Regions from separate parts of the Homo sapiens genome. Here region 2 is reported to be linked to region 1. The links are microRNA targets in miRTarBase. Many come from high-throughput screens and were not tested one by one. Region 1 holds a microRNA gene; the other region holds the end of a gene's coding sequence.

Region 1 (4,362 bases):
TAGTGCCTGTCTATAAAAGAGTGAGGACTTAGATTTCTAAATGCATACTAACAAGTATATTTATAAAGACAGATTTTATTACCTGATTGTATAAAGCAGAAGTCTCCTTTAACAGATTAAAAGAAGAGGTGGGTGGAATATGCTAACAAACAAAGGTCCATGTGTGAATCGGGGGATATTCAGGACTTAACTAGACTTCAGCAGACTCATTTAGGATCTTAAACACTGTCCCAAGTCCAAAATTCACATTTAAGCTGAGAGCAGCTAGGACTTTACTATCTATCTATGGTTTAAGTTGTCTTCCACTCGGCTTGTAAAGCCTAGAGTGTCACTGTTTCTGCCCACAGATAGCTGTCAATCTTGGCCCATAAGGAGATGGAACCATAGGAAATGTTTCATCTCCACTCCCAGCACTTCTTTCCATATAAAAAGATTTCCACTAGCACAGCAGTCCTGACATCTCTGTTCTCAGGAGAAGAGGGAATCATTTAATGTTATTGAGTCCCTTTACCTCCTCATTCTCTTGAGAGCTATGTGCATAGAGAAAGCATACTTTCTGCTCTGCTATTTCAGACCCTACATTTTAGAGTACATTGTCTAATGTTGGAAATAAGGTAGGTAAGTCTCTCTAAATCTGAGATTCAGTGATAGTAAGGCGATCCTCCAAAATCAACTTTAACAATGATAAAATTGATAATTTCCTCTCTATCTATCTTACTCTGTTTTTCAATGACTCAGACTCAGCTGGAGAAGAGAGATGTTCCCTCTCTTGAGCTCACTAAAGACATTCAACAACATGTAATACAATGGGTGGGACATTTGTCTTTTCCAGGCCAAGGAAAAGGAAAACAAACTTAGGTCCCCAAAGACTTAGGATAAAATATCACAGATATAAACTTAGCAAAGTTGAACTCAGCTGTTAGAAAATGGAATTGGATTAGTTTCCTGTGGCTGCTATAACAAATCACCACAAACTCAATGGCTTAAAACCACATAAACTTATCCTCTCACAGTTCTAGGGGACAAAACTCCAAAATCAGTTTCACTAGGCCTACATCCAGGAGTTAGCCAGGCCATGCTCCCTCTGGGAACTCTAAGAGAGAATCTGGCCTTTCCTCTTCCTGCTCATGGGACTGCCAGCACTTCTTGGCTTGTGGCTGCATCACTCCCATCTGCCTCCCTGATCACATTGCCTTCTCCTCGTTGTCAGCTCTCCCTCTGCCTCTCTCTCATAAGGATATACGTGACTGCATCTAGGGCCCATTCTAATAAGCTGTGATAACCTCTTCATCACAATATCCTTAACTTAATCATACCTATAAAGACCTTAAATTTTTAATGTTTTAATTGTTTTTAATTTAAAAATGTCTTTTCTTAGGTTCCTACAGACAGAAACCTTTTTTCTGTATCAGGTAGTATTTACAGATTCTAAGGATTAGGACCTGACGTCCTCGGGGGACTATTTTTCCACATGAGTTCAATAGTCTTGAATAAATATCATTTATATCTCTTTTCTTCTTTTCTCTATGTTCTGAAATTTTACAATTTAAGATGCAAAAATATGTGGTCTAATATCATAGTTTTAGAGAATTAAGAAGGTAAATTCATCCTAGAGTTTGGATCAAACAAATAATATTTAGAAGGAATATATCATAAGGTGATAACTTTGTATGTCGGTATATATGTAAGTGTGGGTGTGTGTAAATCATTAAATTTCCATATATATACCATATAATTTTCTACCTGAAATGTTGTGAGTTAAATCAAAAAATGTAAATTATTCCTACATATCATTAATATTATAAATTCAGGACCATAGTTATTTATATATTTATTTTTAAAATTCTGGTTGAAGCATTTGGTGAAACAGTTCCAGAATTGAGTTTTTTATTCTTTCTATATGTGGAGCATATGGTAAAATTATTCCTATTTCTAATATGAGTTTGGTATTTTATTGTTAAACTCTAGAAAACAACCACCTTTTAGCCAAGAACCTTTGCCCTCTAAGACACACTCAATTGTATTTTACTTTTGCTACCAACATTTAGGGGTTAGTTTACTTTGTGTTATCATATTCCACCAATATTCAAAAGATTTATCACTTGGCAAGAGTTACTGATGACACTCCATGAGTAGGAAACCTCAAATCTTGGTGAAGGGCAGGCACTGAGCTTCTGCTAAGCACTCTCACTAGCTAAGAAACTTGTGCTACATACTACATGTGCCCTGTTTCAGTTAGGACAGGCTATGATATCGTAACAAATAGACCGCCAAATTCAGCTTCTCATGTTTGAGGGAAAAACACATCTATCTCTCTTTTGGACAACAGTCCAGGATGAGGGTTCCAGGTCAGTGGGAGCTCGGCTATATGCAGTGGACCAGGATGGCAAGGGCTCTCCTGAAAGGACAGTAGAGCCCTTGCCATCCTGGTCCACTGCATATAGTCTGCTCCATCTCAGGAAGCCAGAAGGTAGAAGGGGATGCAAAAACACAGCAGTGCAAGAGCTCTAGTATGTGGCCACACAGAATTGCAATGGAGACTGGGAAGTATAGTCTAGCTGTGTGCTCAGGAAGAAGAGGAGAAGGGATTTTGGTAAACAGCTGGCAGTCTTTGCTGCATGCATTATTTCTGCCTCAGCAAAATAAAAGTTGACTATGTAAAACAGAGGTCATGTGTGTAGAGGTCATTGTGTATACCCTTGGGATATACACAAGCATTCAAACCAATGAATAGTGAGAATTTATTCTACCCAAGCAACTATTTATGCCGAATATTCAGAAGGGGAGGGGAGCAGGAAAGAAATGGTTTATTTTCTTTAAATTATTGAAAATATTAGCTTATATCAATTTTCTCAAGTGATGAAAATGCAGGGGTTAAGCCTTTATTTTTTTTTTAAAGTAAATATTAGTATTATGTAGTATATGTTAAGAAGGTTTTTTTCTCTTCATTTCTTAATCTATTGAGGGAAGGACTAGGCAAATGAAGTTAGGCTTCTTTTCTCAGGGGGCCTAACTGTTGGCCCAGGCTGGGTTCCAAGAACTAATACAAGGAATGGTAACTGGTGGGGTTGTCTTTTTGCTGAATGAAGAGAAGAAAAGAAGAATTCCAAGTCTGTTTCCCAGGCACAGGAAGGACCAGGAAGCAAGGAAACTTCCAATTTTCAAGTCCACTGAGCAGAATACAAGAACAGGGTCCAAAACAAAGAGTTCTCCGTTGAGAACCGGCAAGATGGAGCAAGCAAGTCCTGCAGGCAGGCTGGGCCTGGAGAGGCGCCAAGAGGCCACAGCACTCTTGGGAGGAGGTTTTTCTGGACTCTTGAGGAGCTGAGACTTTTATATTCCAACCCTGCCTTTAATTTGAGGTTTGCCTCCTCCCTCCATTTGCAGAAGAGTAATCCGAAGCTAAATCATTCATAACATGAGAATGCTGATCTGTGTCCAGCCCTTGTGAAGGGAAAAGAAAACAAAACTTCACAAACATAATTAGTAGAACTACCTATAAAACCTAATGTTAAAAGAGAAATTAGCTTTCATGGAGAGAAAGTGTGATGGCATGACACAGAAATTAAGTGCACTGAATTTAGATTTGAAAAGAGTTTGATTCAATTCATGTCCCTGCTTCCCAGTAGTCCGTGACCTTGGGCAAGTGACCTATACTCTCTAAATCTTAGTTTCCTTATCTGTAAGATGGGAGATGAAAATAATACCTAATTCATATTTTTTAAGAACTTAATGAAAGAATGTTCAAATGTATCTAATAAGGTATAGGAACTCAACACATGCCAGTTAAACAAATTTCTAATAATTGACTTTCTTATTTCTTCCTTTCTGGGTAAAACAACTGTCCTTTGTATACTTTCATTTTTTGGAGACAGAGTCTCACTCTGTCTTTTTTTGGAGACAGAGACTCACTCTGTCATCCAGGCTGAAGTGCAGTGGTACGATCTCGGCTCACTACAACCTCTGCCTCCCAGTTTAAACAATTCTCCTGCCTCAGCCTCTCGAGTAGCTGGACTAGGACTACAGGCGGGAGCCATCATGCCTGGCTGGTTTTTTTTGTATCTAAGTAGAAATGGGGTTTCACCATGCTGCCCAGGCTGGTCTTGAACTCCTGAGCTCAGGCAATCCACCTGCTTCAGCCTCTCAAAGTGCTAGGATTACAGGCGTGAGCCACTGCACCCGGCCTGCCCCTTGTATACATAAAAAACAATCAATCAAATCTTCCTCCATGACCCCTTAAGCACTATTGAGTAAAGGTGGGATCTTAAGTTGTGACAACTGATATATGTAAAATGTCAATTTAAGAACATCTCCTTTCAGACATGAGTATTTCCCTGCAAACTTAGGTTTATGTCTAAGATC
Region 2 (3,000 bases), not on the chromosome of region 1:
GGAGTTGGGGAGCAAGGCAAGGGAGAACATCAGGACAAATACCTAATGCATGCAGGGCTTAAAAAACTTAGATGATGGGTTGATGGGTGCAGCAAACCGCCATGCCACATGTATATCTATGTAACAAAACCTGCATGTCCTGCACATGCATCCTAGAACTTAAAGTATAATTTAAAAATACAAAATAAAAATAATAAAAAGGGTTTGAACCTTTCCTGAGCCCAGACTCCAGTCATTGAATCAACAATTGCTCTCCCTTCCGTCTATTATCTTCCTTCCTGACTGGTTCCCTGAAGAAAACAAGCTTCAGCTTATGCCTGTGGGGTTCCAGCCGGCTCATAAACACACACACACACACACACACACACACACACACACACACTCATACACACGTCTCCTACTGATTCTTCTTCTCTGAACCCTGATTGGTAAGAGTTTAAGTTAGTTAATGCCTGAGTTCCCTATTTCTTCAGTTCAGGTGTGGATATGTGTATATGGTGTGTTTCTCACAGATGAACTCTTGATTCTTCATTAGCCTATAAACAAAGCAAAGATATCTAGATCACACTGGCTATGAATGCAAAATCTTCTTCCTATCTCTGTCAGTTGCCTCACTGGCATCATGCATCATAAATATAATCTTATCAAAGATGAAATAACTGTAACTAAGATTGGGCACTATTAGATTGATGAAGTGCTCACCTGTGAAACAACACATATCAGTAAGTTAAATTGCTTTGTGCAGTATGTTTTGGTTGTGCTGGAATCTTCTATTTTGAATCAGATGTTTTCGATGAAAGGAAATGAGGAAAGTAGTTGTCTTCCTGATCCATTAATTATTTTCTTGTACTATTTGGTGAATATCGGATAGCTTATCTGTATAAAATATCTATCCACTTTTTTAATATACTTGGTTATTTTCCTGATCATTTCCAAAAGTCAGCTCATTGTTGGGCATACAAGTTTTCATCCAAAAATAAGGATAGTAATAAAGGTCGGATGAAATTTCTTTTGGAATCTTTTGGAATCTAAATAACACTAAAGTGTTTAAGTTTTAACACTTTCTCGATTTAATAATAATGAGAAAATTTAATCTTAGAGTCAGGCCAGATTTCATTTCTATGAGTTATGCCACTGGATATTTCAGAAAATAGGTTTTCAATAGTAAGGTTATTGGAGCCAGTACTTCTGACTTCGGGTAAACACACACACACAAACACACACACACACACACACACACACACACAATGGATGTGAAATTTGGTAGCAAGTGGCTGCTATTCTTCCTCCCAAAGTAGTCTACTCAAAAGATACTGTCAAGAGCTGTAAATTCCTCAAGGATGAGTTTATTTCACATGTCACCCAGCACGCAACTGAACACATCACAGAAACCAAATACTTACTAAATTAGTGTGCATTGCTTTACAAGGAAAAGTCAATAAAATGGCATAGTGAATATATCATTGGACTTGAAGTCAGTGTTCATCTGAAAATGGGAACAATAATCATGACAATACCATTCAGATAATCATATTCTGAAAATTAAATACATTGTATTACAATGAGTTTGTAAATTCTACAGTAATGTATCTATAATACTTTCCAAAAGACTGCTCTCTGATCTAATACAATAGAAATTTATTAAAAAAGATAATTATTTATGTTATATTCATGTAATGGATCATGTTAACAATAAAGGACAACTTTCCTTTTTTATTTAAACTTTTTTTATTTTACATTCTGGGGAACATGTGCAGGATGTGCAGATTTGTTAAACAGGTAAATGGCAACTTTCCTTCTTTAGTGAGCAAATCTTTCAGTAAGCAAAGTACAGGTGTTCTCTGTGATATTTTTATTTTTGCAATTTATGTTTAAGGAGCAAATCTATGCAAGGTAGCATCTTTCTAGATCTGGAAAGTTGAATTCTTTCTATATCACAGACCTACACTCACAGTTGACATCACCATTCTAGACAAAGCCATAACTACAACCTAAGCACTTTTATTTAAAGGAATGTTCATCAACATCCACTCTCCTTGGTCTTGAGCCAAGCCCAGAAATAACAAGGTCAGATGGTCATGATCAGGAAGAAAGTAAACTCAGACTTGAAGAAATATACTGTCAAATTCCCCATATTCCAACCTGCTGTGCTTGATTTTAATACTTCTTTTATTAAGGTGATTCTGGTAGAATTTGGCTGAGGACTCCTCCCAAAATCTCTTTTGCCACGTAAATACACTCCACTAGTTTTTCAAGATAGGTTTTTATTAATATATGGATTTTATTTTCTGGTGCTCAAGACAATGTAATGCTAAACTGACAAATGGGAATAGTCAGAGTTTTTTTAGGTACAGTTTAATTCTTAATATAAAAAGTAAACAGATTTATAAGAAACATTCTAATAAATACATCACCATGATTTTTAAAAATAATACCATTGTCCAGAGTTCTTGATAAAGTATTGTTATAGAGAGTATAGAGAGTTTTTAGGGATTTTTTTTTTATTTTTGAAGTGAAACTGTATGTACATACTTATAGCATGACACCAGGCCTATAAGTAAGGTATTTTAAAGTAAAGCTTTCAAGGAAAGTACAAATCAGGTATTGAAATTAAATTGAAGACATAGCTTTACTCTCTTCTTTGATCATAACTAAAATAATATTTTAGACAAAAGCTAAAACAAAAAGAGGATATTATACAGATTGCTGCTTCTTTTCCAAACACTTCTCAATATCATCAAGCACCTGAACGGCAGCCTTTGGAATTCGAGTCCCAGGACCAAATACATTGGAAACACCAACTTCAAACAGAAATTCATAATCCTGTTGAAAGAATGTGTTTAATTAATAAGAGCCACTATTTCCATTTTCACGGAAATAAAACCCTATCCTTTCTTCTTTGTCACTCAATTACCCAAAACCTTCTCAACTGGTATACTACTGGCATTTGGGGCTAAAAAATTCTTCCTTGATTGGGAGTGCTACTAATAGTCATCAGCA

What was found. Region 1 holds the annotated microRNA hsa-miR-4776-3p (CUUGCCAUCCUGGUCCACUGCAU, at 2,369-2,391, opposite strand). A microRNA usually pairs through its seed, bases 2 to 8, with sites in the 3' UTR of a target mRNA and lowers its output. Matches are read on the target gene's strand: a 7mer-m8 pairs with bases 2 to 8, a 7mer-A1 pairs with bases 2 to 7 and ends in A, and an 8mer does both.
Region 2: the mRNA of MMUT is a reported target of hsa-miR-4776-3p. Seed matches in the 3' UTR shown: 7mer-A1 at 2,222-2,228.

What each region holds. Positions count from the first base shown.
Region 1 is chr2:212,923,893-212,928,254 of GRCh38, forward strand. MIR4776-2 (microRNA 4776-2) reads right to left here and starts at 2,444; the gene lies at 2,365-2,444. MIR4776-1 (microRNA 4776-1) reads left to right here and starts at 2,365; the gene lies at 2,365-2,444.
Region 2 is chr6:49,429,034-49,432,033 of GRCh38, forward strand. MMUT (methylmalonyl-CoA mutase) reads right to left here. Exons shown (of 13, transcript NM_000255.4): 13 at 1,327-2,823. The coding sequence ends at 2,695. Among named protein-coding and RNA genes, the nearest start is that of MMUT, 33 kb to the right of the region's middle.